Homo sapiens: one gene and its partners. The protein of the gene in region 5 purifies or fractionates together with the protein of the main gene of each other region. This does not show direct contact. Each region holds a gene or a part of one and is shown on either strand. Other genes may lie near its edges. The genes, in order: ELF2, TOR3A, STK39, CHST12, LGI1, CAMK4 and RGPD5.

Region 1 (3,500 bases), on a different chromosome or scaffold from region 5:
TATTTATTTTATTTTTTTGGTTTTTGTACCAATTGTTATTTTTAAATGAAAAAAGTATTTTGATATTTCTTAATTACCAGGATCATTGTAAAAAACAATAAACTCAGACATACTGAGAAAATGAAAATCCATCTTTTGTCTGCTCACCTCTCTTTCACCAGGTTAATAATTTGAGGTGTATTTTTTCCAGACTTTTAAATGTATATGCTAAATAAATATATAAATGGAATCAGACAACAGTACTATTCTATGGCTCATTTTCCTCCTCCTTCCACCCCCTCTTGTTTGTATCATGGATATTTTTCCATGCCAGTATATAGCTCTAACTGCCTTAATTGCTTAATTGATATTGAATAGTCTCTCATTGTATGGATGTTTGTTAGTATGGGTGTATGTTTTCTATCTCTTTTTTTTTTTTTTGGCATTATGAACATCTAGCTTAGGGGACTTGTCTTAAAACTGGGTTTGCATAGCAAGTGCACCATTATTTATTCTAGTGACGTATTTATTTGGAGTGGTTTCTGGGGTTAAACCATGAGAGGTAGGGGAGATGAGTCCTCCCTAAAGCCTGCCAAACGGCATTTTTCAGTTTTGATAAGATTTTTTAAGGTAACCTTACTCTACCTCGAAAGAGAAAATGTGGAACAAATTTATGTACTTTTCACATACTCCTGAATTTTATTATCTTTCTATATATTCCTAAAGTACATTGAGAAAAGGATTACAATACCACTGCTTTCAGCCATTTCATTGTACTTGTCTTTGGAAACTTCTGATACCTGGAGAGCAATGACTGAGTGCATATAAAAGCACTTTCTAGGTAAACACTGCAGCATTGCACTTGTCTTGCCTCTTTAAACTAAGAATCTCTCTCCTTAAATGGAAGTTTTTGAGATCACTGTTAATACTTACAGTAGGGTTGCCAGATAAAATACAGGATGTCTAGTTAAATTTGAATTTCAGATAAACAACAAATGACTTTTTACTTTAAGTATGTCCCAAATATTGCATGGGACATTCTTACAGTTATTATTCAGTGTTTCTCTGAAATTCAAATTTAACTGGGTATCCTGTATTTTTTTATTTGCACCCTAGCTTGTAGGGAATTAGACAGCTTGTGCCAAGACCCATGGTGACTTGAGCAAAGTAATGCTAAGTAAAATAACCTTGTACATGTGTTATTTTTTGCTATTTTATTTTTAAGCAAAGACTCCTGGTTTCTTCTCTTCCATCCCCTTTCTCCCATAAAAATAGCTACTCTTCTACACAGTACAAGGCAATAATTATCTGAATAGCTGCATGCAGTGTCCTCTGGTCTGTATCATATGGCAGAAAAAAGGCTCATGAAGTTACTTGCCTCCATAGATGAGCAAATGTTGAACTTATAAATACCTGTTAATATTAAAATTTGTTGACTTTATTATTCTTTGAGCCAAGCTACAAATATCTGTACTTAAATGCCACTTTAGTTTATATGAAGCATGTGTTATTAAGGAGGATATAAAAATTGACTACGATATAACTCTTGCTCTCAAATATCCTACTAACCAGTCAAGGAGTTGTATATGTAAACACATAATTATAATATGGGACAATGAACAGTGGTAATATTAGGCAAACAACTTGTTCTATAAATACGTAGGATAGAAAAATTAATTCAGATTGGAGGATTATAGAAGATTCCCTGGAACTTGATGAAAAGCCTTCAGTAGATGAAAAGGATTTGGACAGATGTGAAGGCTACAAAATAACATGAGCAAAAGTCTTGGAAATGTTCACATTTAGGAATTAGAAGCAATGCCACTAATCAATTTATGTTAAGTAATGTAGGGAAATAAGATATAAAGGTGGTATATTAGTTTCTTGGGGTTGCTGTAACAAAGTACTGTAAACTAGGTTGCTTAAACAACAGAAATTTATTGTGTTACAGTTCTGGAGGTCAGAATTTAGGAATCAAGGTGTTGATAGATTTTTTTTTTATTGTTGTTTGTTTTTTTTTGAGGGCTAGGAGGGAGAATCTCTTTAATGCCTCTCTCCTAGCTTCTGGTAGCCTCAGGCACTCCTTGGCTTGTAGATGGTGTTCTCCCTGTGTCTTTCCATGGTTTTCCTTCCCATTTGTGTGTCTCAGAGTCCAAATTTCCCTTTTGTAAGGACATAGTCAGATTGGGTGAGGGCTCATCTTAATTATCTTGTCTTAACTTGATCATCTGCAAAGACCTTATTTCCAGATAAGGTCACATTCACAGAAGCTAGGGGTTAAAACTTCATCTTTTTGGGGGACACAATTCAGCCCATGACAGGTGGGTTGGGGTTATATTTCAGAGTGTTAAAGCCATTGTTTAATTTGTTAAACTTTCCTTTTAGACCAAAGGGGAGTCATTAATGCTTTTTATGCAAGGAAGTAACACAAACAGTTCTGATTGTGATGTGAAAAGGTGCCCTCTAAAGTTGAGGGCAAATAGTAGATTTGAAGACTATTTCTATTGTTAAAATATAATATCAGCTGTCACTAATTGAATAACTTACTCTGTGCTTTGTACTTATACTATGCTAAGAACTTTGTGCATATAAAGTCATGGGACTTTAAAGGACAGAAATATTAAAATCTCTTTTTTAAATATGAAGAAACCAAGATTTAAAGAACACAGAATGGGGAAACAGGGACAGATGTAGATAATTTGTGCCATTTAGACATGTTAAGCTTGAAGTGTTGACTGAGTATTCCTGTAGTGATGTTAAAGTTGGTAGTTTAAAATTTGGTTTTGGAATTCAGAAGATGAGTCAGAGTAGAGGACAAATACTTAGTCATTATCAGCATAGAGGTGCTATTTGAAACCATAAGAATGGGTGGGCTTACTTGAGAAGGTAGTATAGGGCAAAAAGAAAGGAGACACTGAGGATAGAACCTCACTAAGTTGGCTAGACTTGAGTCTATGGAGATGAAAGAAGAGTCAGAGGAGACGCTTGAAAGTAGAGTGGTAGGCCGGGGGTAGTCGCTCATGCCTGTCATCCCAGCACTTTGGGAGGCTGAGGCGGGCGGATCACCTGAGGTCAGGAGTTTGAGACTAGCCTGACCACCATGAAGAAACCCTGTCTCTACTAAAAATACAAAATTAGCTGGACATGGTGGCACATGCCTGTAATCCCAGCTACTCAGGGGGCTGAGGCAGGAGAATCACTTGAACCTGGGAGGCAGAGGTTGCGGTGTGTCAAGATTGCGCCATTGCACTCCAGCCTGGGCAACGAGCGAAACTCCATTTCAAAAAAGAAAGTAGAGTGGTAGAGAAAGTTGGAAGAATGAATTTTTTAAATGAGGGTAATAATAAATGTATGAGTCTGCGGGGAGGCAGTAGAGATTGAAAACTGAAATAGAATTTGGTCGTTATTAACATTTTGAGGCTGGGTATGGTGGCCCATGCTTGTAATGCCAGCACTTTGGGAGGCTGAGGCAAGTGGATTGCTCGAGTCCAGGAGTTCAAGACCAGCCTGGGCAACATGGT
Region 2 (3,500 bases), on a different chromosome or scaffold from region 5:
TTCCTTCAGCCTTGGAAGTCTGTTTCTTCTCCGATTATGAGAAGTCATCACTGGCTTAAAATCCAGGGTATACGGGTTGAGAAACCCATGCTTCCTCTGAGTACCTGTAGTTCAGTTGTGACGCTACCATGCGGGACCCAGTCACTGAATCACTGCACTGAGGTTCCTGTGCTTTCACTGACATCTTTGCGTGAAGCCAACTTAGAAATAACTTGTCCAACCTCATCTTTTTGCGGAGGCTCCAACTGGGGGAGTCCTGTGTCTGTTACAAGTCAAGTTTGGGCCCTTGTTGACCCAATTTGAAGGCTTCACAACAGCTCGAGCCTCGGTAGGAGTCAAACTGAGTGCTCCCTTCCCAACTCCACTCCGGCCTCGCCTTCCCCAGGCCAGCACTTGCTTGCTGGGGGGGTTTCCCAAGCTGCAGGGCTCACTTTGTGAGGATGGGGAAGTTGGTGAGGGGATGCTGATTTTCATCCTAGCTTGGGGAGTGTGGAGGGGTGAAGGGTTGAGCTGTGGAGGGCAGATCTAGTTTCGGTGTGGATTCACAAGAGGAAGTGAAACAGGGTCCAGGCGCAGTGGCCTGTCTACTAAAAATACAAAAATTAGCTGGGTGTGGTGGCAGGTGCCTGTAATCCCAGCTACTCGGGAGGCTGAGGCAGGAGAATCACTTGAACCTGGGAGGCAGAGGTTGCAGTGAGCTGAGATCACACCATTGCACTCCCGCCTGGGCAACAAGAGAGAGACTCCATCTCAAAAAAAAAAAAAAAAGTGAAACAGGTTTAAGCCGTTGCTGGGTTGGGATTTCTGTGTAGTGGCGGGAAGCCCTTCCTGGTCTGCAGGTGAAGCTGTGGAGACTTAAAATGCATTGCGAAGTGGGAGGGGAGTGGGGCGCCCAGGGTGATTTTTAAGAGGAGAGAGAGATCTCTTGCATGATTTGGGTGCCCAGAACCAGGAGGTGAGGACAATACATTCTTCCAGTTAGTTCTTATTCCCACGTTCTGTACTATTTCCCACCTTCGGAGGCAGCCGGGCTCACCTCTCCTCCTGTTACAGAGAGTCAGGTGGGGGCTGCAACATGCAGATGAGCCTGAACAGAGGAGTCACCTGGGTGCTCTGTGGTTTCTCCACCTGAGCCCTGGGTCGGGCAGTCCAGGGGACCCTCTGAACCACCGATGCGGAAGCCAGTCCTTCCCACGGCACGGAGCAAAGCATGGTGACCCAGCCTCGGGCCTCCCTTTCGCTTCCACAGGGATCTCCCTTGCGCTGAGTGTCTTCCTCCTCCCTCTCCCCGAGACAGGGGTCTCCCGGCTTCAGGTGGTGCCGGCCACACAGACTCTCCCACCCACTTCTCAGCTTGGAAAACCTCACCTGGGCCGTGATTGCCTAACGTGACCCGGTGACCCTGCAGTCTCCAGGCAAATGTTATAGCCTTTGTAGTATTTTGGCCGTCGACCTGACAGCACCACCCTCCAGCTGCCTGTCCTTTCCCCCAGTGACCCAGCCTGGGTGGACTGTCCGAGGCCATGTGGTTGTGGGCGGGGTGGGGGGGGGGGCCTGCGGGAAAGCCGCCTGCCAGACTCCTCCATGCCACAGCAGGGTGGGGAGGTCCCCCAGGAGCCTTTGACAAGGATGTAAAGGACACATTAAAAAGATGTGGCCTTAGGTTCTAGTGGCTCTGGTGTGGGCCTGTGCCCAGCCTTTACGAGCCAGAGGTTCCCCCCTCCAGCCGAGGGCTGGGCTGACATAGTCTGTGCCCAGGCTGTCCAGGGCAGCAGCCTCTCAACCTCAAGTTCTCAGGTAGTCCAGCGATGGCTGGGAGGAGACACACTGTTGATATTGGAGTCTCTGGACTTGATTTCTATAATGAGCTTCAGTTAATCATCCACTGTAATAAGGATTCTAGGGCATGAAAGAAAAGCACAGCTGATTCAAACTGCTAGAGTGACCAAGTCATACTGCACGAAGGAAGAGCAGCAGTTTAATTCTGAAATAAATCCTAAACCTGCTGTTTGAAGTGAGTTGCCAGTGGCTTTGCTGGCTTCCTCCTGGTGGCAGGAGAGAGGAGGTGGGAGCTGAAGCAGGGAGTTGAGTGTGGTGCTCAGAGCCTGTCCTTCATCCGGGCCAGGGAATTGGGGCCGGTGACTGGGCACCAGGAAAGTAACATTACTTCGCCCACTTCTGCCAAGTATAGAAGGCTGCAGGAATGGGCTCACGTGGCAGGACAGGAACGTGGAACTCTGCGATCGGAGCTGCTGCCCTGTTCTCATGGGAGCTGTAAAGTGACAAGGGTAATTAAAGCCTGTTTCCTTTGTGCTGTTGTCAGGAAAAGGATAGAAAGGACTTTGAAAAATTACAGAACTACACAAATAGAAATTATTTGTGGAGTCGTGGTGGGCCTTGCGCTCCAGCCCCCAGTGTCTGTTGGCTGCCTGTTGACTAATGAGAGGACAGCTTAGATTGGTCCAGTCCTGACTTTATAAATGAGAACACTAAGGCTCAAAGAGATGACTGAGTCTATGTCTGTTCTTTAGGAAAGATGTAGCAGTTAGCATGGGGTTTGTTACCAGTAACAACCAGTTCTCTGGTGAGGCCTGAAGTCCCCTTCCTTTGGGGTCTTAGGGATAAGGGCTGGTGAGATCAGCCCTGGCAGGGGCTGGAGACGGGGGATGAGGGCTGGTTGAGAGAGGTGCCCTCTGGCCCCTCCAGACTTCCCAGCGATCCAGGTCAGCAGATGAGCTGGGAGGCTGTGGAAGGGAATTGAGGTGCTCCAGAAAGACAGTGTCTGTCTAAAGGTAGAACGCTGGTGCCAGAGTGGTGGTCCTGAAGATGGGAGGGGCGGCGCGTAGAGAGGGGCCCCAGGTTATGGGTCAGTGGGTGAGATTAAAGCCTCTAAAGTGGTGGAAGAAAAGGGACTTTGGCTATGGGACAAAACAGGAGAGATTGAGAAGGGTGGAGATGGTGCAGACACATGTGCAGAGATGTCCCTTTATTTACTAAAGGCTGAGTGCCTGATACGCACATAGCACTGGGGTTACAGAAATAAACAGGCCAAGCTTCCTGCCCTATGTGATGGGACCTCTCTTTACCCATGTAAGCACCTTACAGAATGGAGAAGGCCCTGGAGTCCATGCCCCTAGGATGGGGTGAGGGAGTATCACTCTGTGGGGTTTCACAGCACCCTGGATCCTGCCTTCCAGCCCCTGCCAAGGTAAACAGTGCTGCCTGCCTCCTGTGGGGAATGCAGGATGGGGCAATGCCCTGGCAGCAGGGTCTTGCCTCAGCTGATGCAACTGTGGCTGCTCCTGTGTGCACAGATCATGTGCCTGGAAGGCCTTCCTGCAGCAGGGGCAGTGTCAGAAAGTGGAAGAGTGGTGTGAGCAGCTTCCCCGGGGAAAGCCTGGCTGAGCAACTGACCTTGAGCAAGCACTGCAGATGGCCCTTGTTCCTGCCGGGCTCCTCCAGCTGGGAGCTCTCAGCCCCTGGTAAATTCTGGCAGTGAA
Region 3 (3,500 bases), on a different chromosome or scaffold from region 5:
TAATCTGAGTTGATAATGTGGGTGAGAGAATTGGTCCTTATATACCTTCTTTGAAGTAATGGCTTAGGCAGCCCCTCAGGTAGGCTTTCGAGTAGGAAAGTTACCCAGGTACTCAACTGTGATTCACTTGTGTTTTGCTTGCCAATTTTCACCCCATGGTACTATGTCATGTTTTGCTCTTTTTATAGAAAGAAATTCAAGCCATGAGTCAGTGCAGCCATCCCAACGTAGTGACCTATTACACCTCTTTTGTGGTCAAAGATGAACTTTGGCTGGTCATGAAATTACTAAGTGGAGGTAAGTGGATTTTGTTGTTGTTATTTATTTGCTTGTTTTCTCTCCTTTTGTTGGAACCAGCATATTGGAGAAGACTTTAGATTGAATCCTTTCTCTCCTGTGTTTGAAAGTTTGTTTGGTTTCTCATTGCCTAGAGGATAACGTCCAGATTGCTTCACATTGACCTTCAAAGCTTTTCATAATTTTGCTTAACTTCCGAGAATGTGTATGTCCTCTTCTCCAGGTATGAAATGCCCGACCTTCTAGGCTGAGAGGCAGCCCCCGGAATGTATTATGTGCTCTCATGCCTTTGCCCCTGACCTGTCCTCTTTCTCAGCCTTGCATCTCTCCTTTGTTTTCCATGTGCTCAGGCCTAAAAGGTCACATCCTCTCCACAGTCACCGCTTACTCTTCAAAAAAGTTAGCCAGTCCTTTCTCCTTGAGTCCTTTCTTTTTAACATTGTTCAGGTCCTTAACACATTGCAGTTTGCTGAATTATCTCAGTGCCATTTATCAGAATGTTCTGTGATGATGGAAATGTTCTGAGGTGCTGCTATCTACTTTTTACTAATCCCATGTGACTCTTAAGCACTTGACATGTGGCTAGTGTGACTGAGGGACTGAGTATTCAATTTTAATTAACTTACATTTAAATCACCTTGTATGGCTCCAGTATTGGACAGTGCATATTTAGGTTGTGGACTTTGTGAAGATTGTCTAATGCACTTTGAATTCATTGAACTTGGCGCCCAGTAGGTGCTCACTAAATGTGGTTTCAGTTGACATGGGGAGAAATGTGTGCTACATATTCACTTGCAGTGTTGATCAGAAATGGCACTATTGTCATCCTATTGTTGCATTTGGGAAGGGAAAGTCACTTCCTCTCTCTAGCTTCAGATCCCTGCAGTGATGCAAGCCATTGACAATTTAATTTACAAGGTGCTTTCACATCCTGTATTTTATTTCTTTTAATCTTCTAACATCACTATCAGAGAGGGAATGATAATGATAACCGTTGCCTTTTTTGAACACTTACTCTGTGGCTAGATCCTGTCCAAGGCAATTTACTGACCTTATCCCATTTAATCTTCACAGTGTCCCTGAATGGCCTGTGTCACCATCCCTGTTTTTCAGAAATTACACCAAATTTCAAGGGAGTTTAGCAACTTGCCCAAGGTCACACACATAGTAAATGTTGGTGCTGGAATTTGTGACTTTAACATCTGTTGACTTAAAAATTTGTATGCTGTGCTGCAAGTATTTACACCTTCGTTTTGCAGACATGGGCACTGAAGCTTAGAAAGCCCAAGTGATTTCCTTGGGAACACCCAGCATACCCACATCTCTGGTGTGTTCTCTTTCGAGGGCTTGATTCTCTGGGTATCTTTCTGAGACATGAAGTATGGTTTAGGATCAGAGGAGAACATTTTGCTGTGCCTGGACAACCCAAAACTAGCATAGCAGAATTTATATGATAGAGCCTATTTTAATCTGCAGATGTCGAGGGAGGTGTTTTAATGTTTTCCTTTTTTAAAAAGGAAACTCTCTTGGATCAAGCAGAAGCCCAAAAATGAGATGACGAAGGCATTGTAATTGGCTTGGGTCTGCTTGTGTAGGTCTCGGTGGGGAGCCCTGGGGAGCTTAGTTCTGTTCTGTTTTCAGTCTTCCTCAGTCTTATTAGTCATTGTTTCCTTGAGTGCCTACTTCAGTTTTTAATTAAAAAGAAAAAAAGAAAAAGGAAAAGAAAAAGGAAGCCTGCCAGAGCTGGACTGCAGTATTGAGTGCTGGGACTGCCCCTTTATTCAGCAGAGGAACTTGCGCTTTGCCAACAAGATGATCTTAAGGCATTCTCTTTTTGTGGGGTTCCACCAACTCTGAGGAAATGAGAAATTCTGATGACTTGAGACCCTGAATAGTCCCAAATGCTCTGCTCAAGCTGAAGATTTTACCTTTTGCTTTATGAAGCTGAGAATCTTCTGTTTTCTGAGGAGGATCTGACAGAAAATTTCTTTGTCTTTTTGAGTCCAATTTAGCCTCTCTGGGCTTTAGGTAAGAACAGATTTTAAACAGGTTTCCACAGGTAAGGACGTGGGCAGACGTGGACTCTTGTTCATTTTTCTTTTAGCAGGACAGAAATGCATGCATGCCTGGTATGGTATATCCTTATACAATAAAAAGAAAATGTTTTTGGAATTATCATTTTTTAAATGACACAAAAATCTAAGAGTCAACAAATAAACAGAGGTTTTTTTTTCCTCTGGGGAAAAATATGCATTTGTTTTCTTCTATTTCATTACATTGAATCTCTTAATGAGGGGCAGGCAGCTGTATCTGATGGGGAAGCTCAATCCTCTTAGTTAATTATAAAGAGCCTAGAGCCAAATTCAGGTCCTGAGGTAAGCCGTTTGTTAACTCTTCAGAAATGTCAAACCCCCAGGTAATTTTGGCTTTTAAACTGACCCAGGGGTTTGGAATACTAATTAATATGTGTTGAAACATGAATTCACAGTGCCAAGGATACTAATCTGTATATGGTAACAAAGTACTAGGTATCTGTTTGTTTATTGTAAGTGTTAGTGCCTCAAATATATCAGGTAAATGAAATAAAGATCAGCCAGGCTCAGTGGCTTATGCCTATAAGCCCAGCACTTTGGGAGGCCAAAGGTGGGCAGATCACTTAAGCCCAGAAGTTCAAGACCGGCATGGGCAACGTGGTAAGACCCCATCTCTACAAAAAATACAAAAATTAGCCAGGCGTGGTGGCACGTACTTGTAGTCCCAGCTACTTGGGAGGCTGAGGTGGGAGGATCGCTTGAGCCTGGGAAGTTGAGGCTGCAGTGAGCTGTGATTGCTCCACTGCACTCCAGCTTATATGACAGAGGCAGACTCTGTCTCAAATAAAAAAAGAAAAAGAAGGAAAGAAAATAAAGATCAGGTAGTGTCACAGGAAGGAATCTTCCGGTTATAAGCAGAGGTCTAGAAACAACATACTTCTTTCCCCCTCCCACCTGTGATTTAGGTCCTCAAAGAGTGTGTTTTTTTTCTCTCAGCAGTTCACTTCTGCCTTTTCTCCTGGCCTCATACTCCTTTCTTTGTCAGTTCAGACTTTTTGCACCCTCTTTGGAGGGTTGCTCTTAGGAATTTTTGTGAGAAATACTGTAACCAGAAAAGGAACCAGCCATGGAACGGCCATGAACAGCCTTCTGGTCCCTGACCCAGAATCC
Region 4 (3,500 bases), on a different chromosome or scaffold from region 5:
TTTTTTTTTTTTTTTTTTTTTTTTTTTTTTTAGTAGAGACAGGGTTTCACCATGTTGGCCAGGTCTCAAATTCCTGACCTCAAGCGATCCTTCTGTCTGGGCCTCCCAAAGTTCTGGGATTACCTGCCTGAGTCACCCGCCCGGCCTTAACAGCCATAATTTAAACTAGACAGTATGGGAACAGCTGGAGTTAGAAATCCTAGAAATCCTGCTTCTGTAACTGACCGGTTTACCTCTGACTTGACTTCAAACAGGAAGCCCTGAAGATTGACCTTTTCAAGTACAACACTTAAACAAAGAACTTTCCCTCTGGAAGGATTTGTCGGCTACCCTTCCAAAAACAGACAGGTGCGGCCTGACTTCAAGTGCAGGCCCCGCCCTCCTCCGGTGAGTGGCCCTAGCCCTGGAGGCAGCTCCATCAGCCTCAGCATCCCCTCCCGGCGCCCGCACGCTCAGAAAAACCACAGGAGCGGGCGAGCGGGCGAGCGGGCGGGCGGGTGGGCGGGCGGAGGGGAGAGGGGATATTTTACTCCAGCATTCCCTTCCACATTTCGTATTAAATACCTGAAATATATTAATCTTAAAAAACAATATCGATACAGTACTCAATGGATAGAGGCAGTGGAGTGAACAAGAAGCCCAGATTGCAAAATCGTAGGTCATAAAAAAACTGGAGTGCGCGTGCGTCAGGTTCCAGGCACGCGAGAAAAAGCAACGCGAAAGCTTTCAGTCTCGGAGGAGGTTTTCGGGCTTGGGGTAGCCGAAGAGAACAAAGTCGGCCTCGTAGAGTTTATACAGCTGCTGCCTCCAGGCCAGGGGGATCTTGGCGAACCAGTCCTCCTCCCAGCTGCTGGCGGTCCTGTTCCGGTAGCTCGGGGGGAAGCGGAGCTGCCGGTCCACCTGGAGTAGCTGCAGCAGCTGCGCGGCGTCCTCGTCCAGAGTCTCCAGCTTCCCCACGAAGTCGTAGTCGATCTGGCACGGGTGGCAGAGGCGGTACACCTGCCGCCAGTGCTCGTTGAAGGGCGCCAGCTTCTCCGTGTGCGGGTCCAGCAGGTACTGGATGAAGTTGGCGAAGGACACCTTGAGGCCAGCGCGGAAGGCCTCGCGCGCCGAGGCGGGCAGGCTGGTGTGGTTGGCGTACAGCCGCAGCATGGGCACGGCGAACTTGCGGTAGAACTCCTCGTTCTCCAGCTCGAACTTGCTGCGGAAGGCGGAGATCAGGCGCACGAAGGGGTCGCGCACGAAGAGGAACTTGGTGTACTTCTTGAGCTTGACCTTCATGAGGTGGCGGGAGAGCTTCCCGTAGCGGCGCCAGAACTTGTTGAAGGTCAGGTGCGCGCTGGCGTTGTGCACGTGCTCGCGCGGGATGCGCAGCGGGTCGCGGTAGGGCGCACCGCGGTGCAGCAGGCTTCCGCTCAGCACGATCATCACGCGCTTCCAGTTGGTGCAGGCCACCTTGGGCACGTAGCAGTAGATGGCCCCGTGCCGGTCGTCCACGATCAGGTGGCTCAGCTCCGAGTTGGGGATGTCGTCGAATGCGCGCTCCTTGGTGGGGAAGGCCAGGCTGGAGTTGGCGCAGAAGCCCCGCAGCACGCTCCTCCGCTCCGCCTGCTGCCGGCCCTGGTCTGGGCTGCGCCGGGCGTCGCGCGGGGACCAGTCGTAGCCTCTCACGCTCTCCTCCATGCTCCCCGGCGCAGGCGGCTGCTCCGTCTCCTTTCTGGGAAGGTCGCTCTGCTTCACGCCAGCACTGAGAAACTTGTCCAGAAACTCGTCGACATCGGAGTCGGCCGTGAGCTCCCTGTCCCTGTCCGGCCCGGGCGTGGGCAGCGGCGGCCCCGTGTGCGGCCTAGAGAAGGACGTGTGCAAGTAGAAGTGCGCGGCGCCTGCGCTGTCCCAGTACACGATGATCAGCAGGATCATGAACACCGACCCCAGCACCAGCCACAGCCGGAACAGCCGGGCCTTGGTCATCCTGCCCCGGGCGGGCTGGGCCCTCTCCGGGCCTCTCACTTCAGCTTCCTGCAGAGCCGGGGCATCCTGCTGGGAACCTGCAGATGCAATGACACACTAGTTAATGACTGAGGTGCACTGGGGCTCTGACTCCTGCCTTCTGATCAGTGGGGGACTGGGGTCCGGAGGAGCAGGAGCGCTGGGCCACGTGATATCAGCTCGCCCTCCAGAGGGGCTGGAGGCTGAGGTCAGCAGTGCAGGGAGTCTACACATCCATGTGCCCGAGCACCAGTAATGACCCTGGACGCCAAGGCTCGCGTGCTTCCCTGGCTGGCAGTACTCCACATGTGCTGACACTCGCCACTGGCGGGAAAGTAATATTGCCCACAACTCCCAAGAAGAGGACGCCTCCCAGGGAGTGGAGACCAGCTCCAGGTGTGAGCCCTCCTGGACTCTGCCCTCTGCAACTCTTCCCAAGGCTGATTTTTTTTTTTTTTTTTTTTTTTTTTTTTTTTTTTTGATATGGAGTCTCGCTCTGTCGCCCAGGCTGGAGTGCAGTGGCCCGATCTTGGCTCACTGCAAGCTGCACCTCCCAGGTTCACGCCATTCTCCTGCCAAGGCTGATTTTAATCTTCGAATCTATATCCTTTTCCTATAATAAACCATAGCCACAAGAATAACTGTGATCAGTGAGCTCTGTAATCTTTCTAGCAAATCATCAAACCCCACAGTGGTCTCAGGGACGCCTGCATTTGCTATTGGTGTCATAAGTAAGAGGGGTCTTGGGAACCATTCCTTAACTTCACAGTGACCCAACAACAGGAAAATTGTTTTGGCAACACCCACTCTACTTAAGTCGAATGCCAATGGAAAAACTGCACCCTACAGCTTCATCAGGGCCACCCTGAGAGCTGACCTTCCACACCACCCTGGCTTCCCAAAAGTAAGTGGCACATTGCTATTCCCCTGCCAGGCACCAGGGGGTGTTGGTGGGGCTGAGCTGGGAGCTGATACCCCTTCCTCTGCCCATGGAAGTAGAGGTGCTTCCTCTGTCTGTCCCACCAGGGTACTGTCAGTGTGGTCCAGCAGGGAGCTAAGCCTTGACCCCACCTGGCATCCACAAGGTGGAAGGAGATGGTGTGAGGCAGGAGAGTCCACACTCTGACTCCCTCTCCCCCAGCCAGGTCAGGGCCCAGTAGGAGCTGAACTCCAACTCTACTCCACCCCTATCTGGCACCCATGACATGGCGTGAGGTGGTTAGAGGTGGGGCAAGTTGGCCCTCTACTTTCTCACCTCCTCTCTCCCGGGAATGGAAAACATTAATCATGCAAATATTAATGAAAAGAAAGCAGGAGTGGCTATCTTAATATCAGATGAAGCAAATTTCAGAAGGAAGGAAACTACTAGAGACAAAAGGACATTACATAATGACAAACAGTTCAATCCCCAGGAAGACATAACAATCCTAAACATGTATGCACCAAACAACAGAGCCTCAAAATACAAAAAGCAAAAATCGATAGAGCTAAAGGATAAACAGACAAATCCA
Region 5 (3,500 bases):
TTCAGTTGATTAGTGATGATGGTGATGCTTGCTGGTTGTTGATCCTGTGGCTAATACGGGCTACAGAATGTCTGCAAGGGCTTTACAGCATCAGCTGTAATATCAAAACAGCTGACCCTGGTGAGCTGGCAATGAGGCAGACAACACAGACTTGTGGGCAGATAAGCATGGGTTCAAATCCCCACTCTGCTTCTTCCTAGTTGTATGATTTGGGGCAAGCTTAATCAAGTCTTGATATCTATATCTACAAAATGAGGAAGAACCGTAGTACCTATTGCACAGAATTACAGTAAGGATTAAGTAAAACAATGCATGAAAAATGCTTTGCAAGGTTCCTGTAACTCAATACACATTAGCTTTATTACAGTATCTGAAAATCACTTTAATTGGAACTACCATAACATCAGATTAGTGTCTGATTGTATAATCTGGGTTTGCCGATAATCTCAGCTTTAAACATTTTGTGGTTCTACACACAGTTCCCCAGCAGAACTTGCTGAGAAATCTTTTCTTTAAATACTTCTTACAGGAAACATGAACTATTTACCTTTCAAAAAAAAGTCATAACCCTCTCCTTTCTTCCTCATGAATAAAATGACTGGCACCACGTTTTGTAAAACATGCCAGATTTTGTTTAAATAATTAATATTGGCAGTCTTCAGATGAGTGGTTCTATGGTAGCATAGAAAGAGGCCTAAACTAGAAATCAGGAAACATGGGTTTGAAACTCAGTTTGGCCACTATTGGGCTGCGTGATCCAATAGTTTGGGTAGGTCACAAAACTACCTAATAGTTTGGGTAGGTCACAAAATATCACTGGACCTCAGCTTTTATTGCATAAAATATTAGAGGTAGATTAAACTGTGGTTCTGAAACTCAAATGCTAGTGGGGTTTGGGGCGGTAAGACCAATGAAGGAAGCAGTTGAGTATAAGACAATAAGGAGTAGTGGTGACTGAGGTAAACCAGAGAAGACATGTCTTACCTAAAAATCCTCTGCTCCAACTGACTATTGCTGATGGGATTGTGGTACATGCACATGGAGCCCTATCTTCCTCATTTTTAGGGGAAGGTGGAATTCTGGAAGTAGATTTTTAAACAGGATAAAGACCAAACAAATATAAGTTGGCATTTTGAGACCCTTGCATTCAATTACATCTAAGGTCTCCTCCTATCTTAAAATTCTGTTGTATTCTACAAACAGTTACGTTAATATAATATAGAAATGGCATGGTTAAAGAAATGGACAACGATGGCTTGGCGCGGTGGCTCACGCCTGTAATCCCAGCACTTTGGGAGGCCGAGGAGGGTAGATCACGAGGTCAGGAGATGGAGAACATCCTGGCTAATACGGTGAAACCCCGTCTCTACTAAAAATACACAAAATTAGCCATGCGTGGTGGCGGGCGCCTGTAGTCCCAGCTACTCGGGAGGCTGAGGCAGGAGAATGGCGTGAACCCAGGAGGCGGAGCTTGCAGTGAGCCGAGATCGCGCCACTGCACTCCAGCCTGGGCGACAGAGTAAGCCTCCGTCTCAAAAAAAAAAAAAAAAAAAAGAAATGGACAAAGATTATTGAATCAGTTCTAACAAACCAATACATTAGGTTGTTCATTGAAAGAAACTCATAATATGAAACTGGCTGTTATAAGGTTATTAATACAATAATTGTAGTTCCCAATCTCCCAAACAGGTCCAAAGGGACCTTACCAGGCTCTCCCTGTGGTGGTTGATGATAAAATGATGTTTCAGTATCCCTCTCATGGAGCAAGGATTGGAAAAAAATTGTTAGGCCCATTTTTATATAGCAAGATGGCAGGTGCTTGCATGTGTAAAATGTGATCAAAAGGCAATAAATCTTTAAAAATACAAACTAGAATGTATACATACAAATAACTCTTGACTTCACAGAGGGCCATAGATTTTGCCCAACTGTGCTTCCATGGCTAAAGATTTCTGGACCCTCCTTTGAGAATTGTCTTCATTGCCAGTTTACAAGCCACGCAATAAAACCAGGCAAGGTTTTATTAGAGACATTAGTTATTTTTGTATTGCTTGGTGCTAAGCATTTTATAGATCTCTTTTTTTTTTGAGACGGAGTCTCGCTCTGTCCCCCAGGCTGGAGTGCAGTGGCGCGATCTCGGCTCACTGCAAGCTCCGCCTCCCGGGTTCACGCCATTCTCCTGCCTCAGCCTCCCGAGTAGCTGGGACTACAGGCGCCCGCCACCACGCCCGGCTAATTTTTTTGTATTTTTTTAGTAGAGACGGGGTTTCACCGTGTTAGCCAGGATGGTCTCGATTTACTGACCTCGTGATCCTCCCGCCTCGGCCTCCCGAAGTGCTGGGATTACAGGCGTGAGCCACCACGCCCGGCCTATAGATCTCATTTTTAATGTCATCATCATGGTAACCTTTTGAGGTAGATATAATTATCTCCATTTTGCAAATGAAGCGCTGAGTCCTAAAAGATAACCTCCTCAATGTCACGCCCCTATTAAGTAGCAGAGTTGGAGTTTAAACCCATGTCCTCACTTTTAACCACTTCTGTCTACTTCCTCCTGAACATGAATCATCATGCTTCACTTTGCATAGTTTTGTTCCCAAAATCAAATCCCCTCTCAAAGGGTCAACCTTTGCCATTAACAAGAGTTTTCAGGAGAATGTGCCCTAATTCCTGGAGACAATGACTGAAAGGAGTTTCAAAAGCCCTTTGAAAGAGTGGCCGCATTGCTGGCAAGAGCAGCTAGTTTCCCTAGGTTGCAACTCTCATTTATATGTGTAAGCTCTGATCTCCTTGCTTAAACAAAAATAGAGAGAAAGAAAAGAAAAAAGCAAAAGAAAAAGGCCTTATTTACTTTAAAGTTACACCTTAGACTACTGTTGTCTAAACTTGTGTCCTGTGGAGCAGTTGACCTGAAAGAAGAGTTCTGTGCTCAAATAAATTTGGGAAACTGCACGTTCTATCCCTGCTTGGTTATTTACAATGAAGTTACCTTGGCATAGAAACATCTCTGAAATTATTCAAAATTGTTTCACTTTTCTTAACATCCCATAGAATATTGGTTCTATGGAACATACAGTACTTTGGAAATATATGCATGTGATAATTCATCTTATTTTTAGCTTAACTATTTGTACCCCACCTCATTCTAGAGAGGTTGGATAGCAAAGGATACGCAGGTGGAAAGAATCTCATCCTAGTGGATACATTAAACGGTCTGTCTCCATATAAGGAGCAACTCAAGACCATTTTGTTAGTGTGGATTCGTTGATGTGACCTCTGGGAGTCAGGCTCCTCAGTAGGCTCTCTACCTGGTCAAGCAATTTAGCACACACCCCTTCTTTAGGGACCTCCCAGTAGATCTCCATCTTTGGGAGGAAGGAGATGACTTCTTGCAGCTCATTCAACAGGAAAAGGCTTCTGAGTGTGTAAATATACACTGTCACTGTTTTTATTTGGAGCAGATTTCATCACAGCTATTTTCTAAATGGCTAAACAAGCAT
Region 6 (3,500 bases), on a different chromosome or scaffold from region 5:
TTTTCTTCTATGTGACTGTTTTGGTTACAATGGCAGTAAGTTCTTATCAAAACCGTTCATCAAGTAGTCTTGAGATGCATAACAGTTGCACGTATGTACCCACTTCCCCTTTCTGCACAAAGACACACCTTGCAATATGATTTTTTGTTTGCATATTTATCTGTATATTTGCTTTAAACTCACTTTTCATAAAGTAGAATGTTATTTAAATATAAAGAAGTTTATTCAGTATCCACTTATGACTACCATTCTTTGACCCAGTCACCATCCAATAAAATGTTTTTTGAGCACATGCTTCCAAACTGTGTACACTAACGTACCTATTAATGGTATATATGTGTTACTTAACCAACATTAATGTGCTTTTTAAAACATCCAAAAATAAAAATTAAAGACAAAAATTAAAAAAAGAAACCAAAACAGATTCTCTAATACTTTCTTCTAGCACCTCATTGTATTACACATACCCTGGCTACGGGCATCCCACCTTATAGACCTCTGCTATAGTCGAAATATGAGTGGCTGATTTAATTTAACTCTATTCAATATATAAAAAAGGAGTAATTTTAAGTTTTCAAAAGATTGCTTAAACAGGTTCCTCATTTAAATGACCTTAATTATCCACCTGAGACATCTGCATAGCATATAGAAGGATTATTCAACACACAGCTAATACTAGCAAATGGAAAAATTAATTCAACTTTACTAGTTAGAGGAAAATCTTTCATCAGTAATTTATTTAGCATATTATTGTCACTCTAAATATAATAGAGGAATTATCAATTTGAAACCTATTTAGTTATTATGTACAAAACAAATTACCCGCCAATAAATAGTCTTTTGATATGAACATTGTTCACGGTATGGAAATTTAACTTTCACGCCCTTCGAATAAAGGCTCTTCATTTTCACAAACATTATGTGAAGTAAACATCAGTCATATAATCAGTATCAGACAAAAAGAAATAGGAGGAAGAAAGAGAGAAATGGAACTAGCCAACATGTTACATTGGTAAGAACTGTAACTGTAGCAGTTTCAGTAGATTTTGATAAAAGATGAGTATGCATTTAAAGCTTGTGCCCACGTGGAAAACTAATAAAAAGTTGACATTTTCAAAGTGAAAGAGAGACTAAAGGTAGTTCCTTGAATAAGTTAAGATTTGATATCATTTTAACCTGAAATTCTCATGCAACTGGGGAGGAGCAGAAGTTTAGCTTGACTGGTCTAGGTTAGCAAACCACAGACCAGACCTAGGAGCCGTTTGATTTTCTAGAGTCTGCAATCTAAAAACAATTTTTGCATTTTTAAAAATCAAAAGAAGAATACTATTTTGTGATGTGAAAATTATATGAAAGTCAAATTTTACTGTCATAAATGACATGTCACTGGAACACAGTAATGTGCTATTGTCTGTATGTTGTCTATGCCTGCTTTCTCTCAACCATGGCAGAGGGTAGAGCTGCATCAGAGACTGAATGGCCTTCAAGCCTAAAATACTTACTGTCTCTTTTTACTCACTCTTTACCTGGTCTAGGTAACCAATCTAAGTCCAACATTTCTCCTTTCTTACCTAGTCATAGGCTATGGGATTGTTTTTTCCTTAAAAAAAAAAAAAAATTTACATCATCAGTTTTCTCTTATCTAGCCCCATGTTTGATCTACATTATAGGTAGTGGCAAATTCTGAGTCCCACAACCTCAGCCCAAGACCCAGCTGCTTCTATAGCTGACGTTTTTCTCTCACAATGGTTACTTTATCTACAAAGTGGTTTTCAAGTGACACAAGCCTACTCTTTTTGTTTTTTTTAAACAGGTTGTCTTTGGTCTGACATCAACTTACCCTGCTGACCCAATCTGCCATTGCAATGTTCATGCTTTATAAATTTTGCAAAACAAAAATGTATATCCTGAATTTTTCTGTCCTTTTTTTGCCTCTTCTTAGAATGTACCATCTGCCTGACATGCTGTTTGCCAGTGCTCTACCTATTAAAATCCTGCCAAATTTCAGAGTCTACCCCTCCCCCATAAAGACACCCCAGTCCTCTCTGTCACAACTCTGTCATGAAGATGGCTATTGTTCTTAGATTTCTAATAAGTTTTATTCATTTTACTTATTCATTAATTTATCTTTTATTAAATATATTGTTGGTGCCTTATTAGTAGTACCCTATGCACTTGGAGGCCAAATATTGATTTATCATGCTCATTTACACTCTAGGCCCTTACCCCACCACATGCACACTGCCAGCATACATCGTCTAGGTCAGAATTATTGAAAAGCTTAGACTTATAAACAAGAGGACTTTAGGTAGCACAAACGCATGGAATTAAATAACAAGGAATAAAAGAGAGAGCGAGAACATCCTTTTCTTTTCAATTACTTTTCAATGATTCTGATTACATCAAGAAGAAAACTTCAATTTGTGCTACTCTGGTTTTAACTCTGCTAATCTTTGATCATCTCTTTTTTAAGGAAGAAATCAGTCCTCAGAGTTACAGCCTTCTGCATGTGGACAAGTCTAGCTATAATTTACTAAAAATGTTATGTTTCCATTACAATTTATTTTTACAATTTGTTTCTATTTATGGCATATACAATTTGCTTTTATTCACAGTTTTCAATTTAGTGAAAATTGTATTCTTGGTAAATAAATTTAGGTTAACAAAATAAGGTAATTTAAATAAAAATATTAAGCAAATAGCAGAAGTGGAATACACATAAAACAGAAATCTTATGGTAATACATAGAAATGGGAGAAACATTTGGTTGTAGCAGATACTCAGTAAAGCCAAATTAACATAATCTATCAATCTCCTTGTTGTTGTTCACTATCTACATAACTGAAAGAAAATGTGTAAAACACTAGCTTCAAGACATGATTCTCAAGAGGAGAGAGGGGACACATTTGACAATGTTTAGAGACAGTTTTGGTTTAACAACTTATAAGGGTGTCACTACTGGCAGCTAGTAGGTAGAGGCCAGGGACACTGTTAAACATCCTACAGTGCACAGGACAGCCCCCACAACAAGGAATTTCCTGGGCCAGAAGTCTATAGTGCCTAGATTGAGAAACCCTAGTCTAAGAGAAAAGAGGAAGGTCTACTTGCATTACCCTTTACCCATCACTATGAATCACTGTCTCTCCAGACACTGTTCTTTTCTTTATTTGATCTTTACCACTGACAAGATAATGACTGAGGAAAATCTCTGACAAACTGTATTGAAGGGTCCACATCCTTTATGTGCTAATACTATGCCTTCGATATTTAGACCTAACTTCCTAATTAAACCATTGGAGTCATGAAATCTTCAGATAATCCTGTACTACAAATAGATCAAGAAAACTGAGGTAAAGATCAATATAATTTGAGTAAAACCTTGACTCTAGCTGCTATCAACTTCATGAAAAGTTCCTCTTTGTCCTGAATTACATGGTTCCTTGCCTCAAACACCATATTTTGCAGTATGAATTTGACCTTGAAATTTTACAAAATCAATA
Region 7 (2,450 bases), on a different chromosome or scaffold from region 5:
AAACAGCCTTCCAAGGCAAGAGCAAATGCACCCTATCTAAGCACAGCTTTTCTCCAATTCTTATTTACCTAAGGAGATGAATAGCTGCCAGGAACATTGTTTGCACAAGGGCAGGAGCCTGCCAGATCTGAGAACACAGCAAAATTTTTATTTTGTCAAAAATCTTATATTCAGCTTACACCATTCATTTCAGGTGAACATACAACAGTCTGCATTTCAGTTTAGGGAAATGTTTACAGTCGTCTGGTTCTCTTTATTCTTGGGAACAAGGTTACCTCACTTGGAACACATAACCAGTGCCAAGTTGTCCATCCCTAAGCAATATCGCTTCCTCCTACTTTCTAGAAGTTCTTCAGGTTGTGGAAGACAGACTTTTCAGAATTGTTTGCCCTCATTCCCTCCTCCAGAAATGCATGCCTTTGTATAATCTCTTCCCCTTGAGAGCCAGTAGGCTAACCTAATGAGTTATGTTTAACCAGTAGAATACAGCAAGAATGATAGATTACAAGAGATTGTGGCTTCTATCTTGCTAGCGGCCTCTCTCTGTCTTCTCTGCTTGCACACTTTGTTGAAGCAAGCTACCATCCCAGAGGCAAGGAACACAGGCCATCAGTTTAGCAGCCTTGAGGAACTAAATTCTTCCAACTACCACATAAGTTTGGAAGTAGATTCTTCTCCAGTCCAGCCTTCAGATGAGACCCCAGCCATGCCAACATCTTGATTGCAGCCCTGTGAGAGACCTTGAAATAGAACCATTTCTGATCTCCTGACCCACAGAAACTGTGAAATAAATATGTGTTAAGGTACTAAGTTTGTAGTAATTTGTTACGCAGCAGATTGTAAATAACACGCAGATAAAACCAGACAGAACAGAAAAATAAAATGACTTTAACTCTAGAAAGTTTCCCCATGTAAAATTTTGAAAATGCTACTCTGCCTAAGGTCAAACTGTCATACATATATACGTATGAAAACACAGAAAGGTGTCTGGAAGGGTAATACCAAATTAAATCTTTATCCAAGAGGAATGAAAACCAGTATTCACACAAAAACCTATGCACAAACCTTGTGAATATATTAAAAACCAGTGAATTATGCACTTTAAAAAGGTGAATTATGTGGTATATGAATTATATCTCCAAAACATTTAATTAAAAACCTGTACACAATTATTCGTAGAAACTTTCTTTAAAATTGCTAAAAACGAGGAAGATCTCAGTTATCCTTCAACTGGCAAATGAATAAACAAACTGGTACAGCCGTGCAATTGAATACTGCTCAGCAATAAAAAAGAATGCACTGCCAGTTCAGCAACATGGGTAATTCTCAAATGCATTATGCCAGTTGACAGAGGTCAGACTCAAAATACTATGTACAGTGTGATTCTACTTATATGACACTGAAAAAAGCAGAACTATAAGGACAGAAAACAGGTTAGCGGTTGCCAAGGAGTGGGAGAAGCAGCCAGGGAGAACTTTGAGGAGATGAAAATGTGCCAGGCCTTGGTCGGTGGTGGTACGTAACTGTGCATTTGTCAAGACTCAGTGCTATATGCTGAAAAGGGCAGGTTTTACTATAAGTAAGTTGTACCTCAATAAACATGATTTTTAAATGATTAAAACTTTGGTTTTTGTTTGTTGTGGTTCAGTTTTAAGGTTTCCCATAAATCTATTGGTTTTAGATTCTAAGTTGTATATAAGCTTCTGTTTTAAAAGAATTTTTTTTTAAATCCCCTTATCGTCAACAATATTTAGTTGTGCTGGAAATTTTATTTTGGAATTGTTTAATAGAGAAAGACAATAAATAATGTTCAAGAACAGACATTGATTCATAACATCAAAGTATATTGTGAGAAGATGGTATTTCAGAATAGAGGAAGAATTTCTTATGTGCTGGTAAGATTGTAGATAATCATTTCTGCATAATTTTCATAGCTGGATTGCTTTAATAAAGCCATTTAAAGGTTAAGTTCTAGATTGCTTCATGTTGCTTATCAATGTTTTAAAGCTAAAATAGAAAATTAGCTGTTAAGTTGGCTCAACCGGAAATTCAGTATATCCTTTAAAAAGAGAAATTTAGTAAGCAGTGTGTCTAAAGAATGACATATGGTTGGGTACAGTGGCTCGTGACTGCAATCCCAACACTGTGAGGCTGAAGTGGGAGGATCACTTGAGCCCAGGAATTTGAGACCAGCCTGGAAAACAGTGAGACCTGCATCTCTACAAAAAAACAAAAAATTACCCAGGCATGGTGGTACACACCTTGTGGTCCCAGTTGCTTGGGAGGCTGAGGTGGGAGAATCACTTGAGCCTGGGAGATCAAGGCTGCATTGAAGTCTCATCACGCCACTGCACTCGAGCCTGGGTGACAGAGCAAGACCCTATCTCAAAAAAAAAAAAAAAAAAAGAACCCCCCCCCCCCACCAAAAAAGGCATGTGATCAGTAAAAAA

The links.
Region 1: the proteins of LGI1 (region 5) and ELF2 purify together in Homo sapiens (affinity purification with mass spectrometry; one large-scale study listed by BioGRID and IntAct). This does not show direct contact.
Region 2: the proteins of LGI1 (region 5) and TOR3A purify together in Homo sapiens (affinity purification with mass spectrometry; one large-scale study listed by BioGRID and IntAct). This does not show direct contact.
Region 3: the proteins of LGI1 (region 5) and STK39 purify together in Homo sapiens (affinity purification with mass spectrometry; one large-scale study listed by BioGRID and IntAct). This does not show direct contact.
Region 4: the proteins of LGI1 (region 5) and CHST12 purify together in Homo sapiens (affinity purification with mass spectrometry; one large-scale study listed by BioGRID and IntAct). This does not show direct contact.
Region 6: the proteins of LGI1 (region 5) and CAMK4 purify together in Homo sapiens (affinity purification with mass spectrometry; one large-scale study listed by BioGRID and IntAct). This does not show direct contact.
Region 7: the proteins of LGI1 (region 5) and RGPD5 purify together in Homo sapiens (affinity purification with mass spectrometry, with the first as the bait; one large-scale study listed by BioGRID). This does not show direct contact.

What each region holds. Positions count from the first base shown.
Region 1 is NC_000004.12:139,128,719-139,132,218, reverse strand, and holds part of ELF2 (ETS-related transcription factor Elf-2), read left to right. Parts: intron 1-3,500. UniProt on the Homo sapiens protein: Isoform 1 transcriptionally activates the LYN and BLK promoters and acts synergistically with RUNX1 to transactivate the BLK promoter. Isoform 2 may function in repression of RUNX1-mediated transactivation.
Region 2 is NC_000001.11:179,088,570-179,092,069, forward strand, and holds part of TOR3A (torsin-3A precursor), read left to right. Parts: intron 1-3,500.
Region 3 is NC_000002.12:168,164,096-168,167,595, reverse strand, and holds part of STK39 (STE20/SPS1-related proline-alanine-rich protein kinase), read left to right. Parts: intron 1-188; coding exon 189-297; intron 298-3,500. UniProt on the Homo sapiens protein: Effector serine/threonine-protein kinase component of the WNK-SPAK/OSR1 kinase cascade, which is involved in various processes, such as ion transport, response to hypertonic stress and blood pressure.
Region 4 is NC_000007.14:2,431,111-2,434,610, reverse strand, and holds part of CHST12 (carbohydrate sulfotransferase 12), read right to left. Parts: intron 2,049-3,500; coding exon of another isoform or gene 1,972-2,048; coding exon 727-1,971; 3' UTR 1-726. UniProt on the Homo sapiens protein: Catalyzes the transfer of sulfate to position 4 of the N-acetylgalactosamine (GalNAc) residue of chondroitin and desulfated dermatan sulfate.
Region 5 is NC_000010.11:93,764,436-93,767,935, forward strand, and holds part of LGI1 (leucine-rich glioma-inactivated protein 1 isoform 1 precursor), read left to right. Parts: intron 1-984; exon of another isoform or gene 985-1,079; intron 1,080-1,907; exon of another isoform or gene 1,908-3,500. UniProt on the Homo sapiens protein: Regulates voltage-gated potassium channels assembled from KCNA1, KCNA4 and KCNAB1. It slows down channel inactivation by precluding channel closure mediated by the KCNAB1 subunit.
Region 6 is NC_000005.10:111,230,884-111,234,383, reverse strand, and holds part of CAMK4 (calcium/calmodulin-dependent protein kinase type IV), read right to left. Parts: intron 1-3,500. UniProt on the Homo sapiens protein: Calcium/calmodulin-dependent protein kinase that operates in the calcium-triggered CaMKK-CaMK4 signaling cascade and regulates, mainly by phosphorylation, the activity of several transcription activators, such as CREB1, MEF2D, JUN and RORA, which play pivotal roles in immune response, inflammation, and memory consolidation.
Region 7 is NC_000002.12:109,853,305-109,855,754, forward strand, and holds part of RGPD5 (RANBP2-like and GRIP domain-containing protein 5/6), read left to right. Parts: exon of another isoform or gene 1-2,385; intron 2,386-2,450.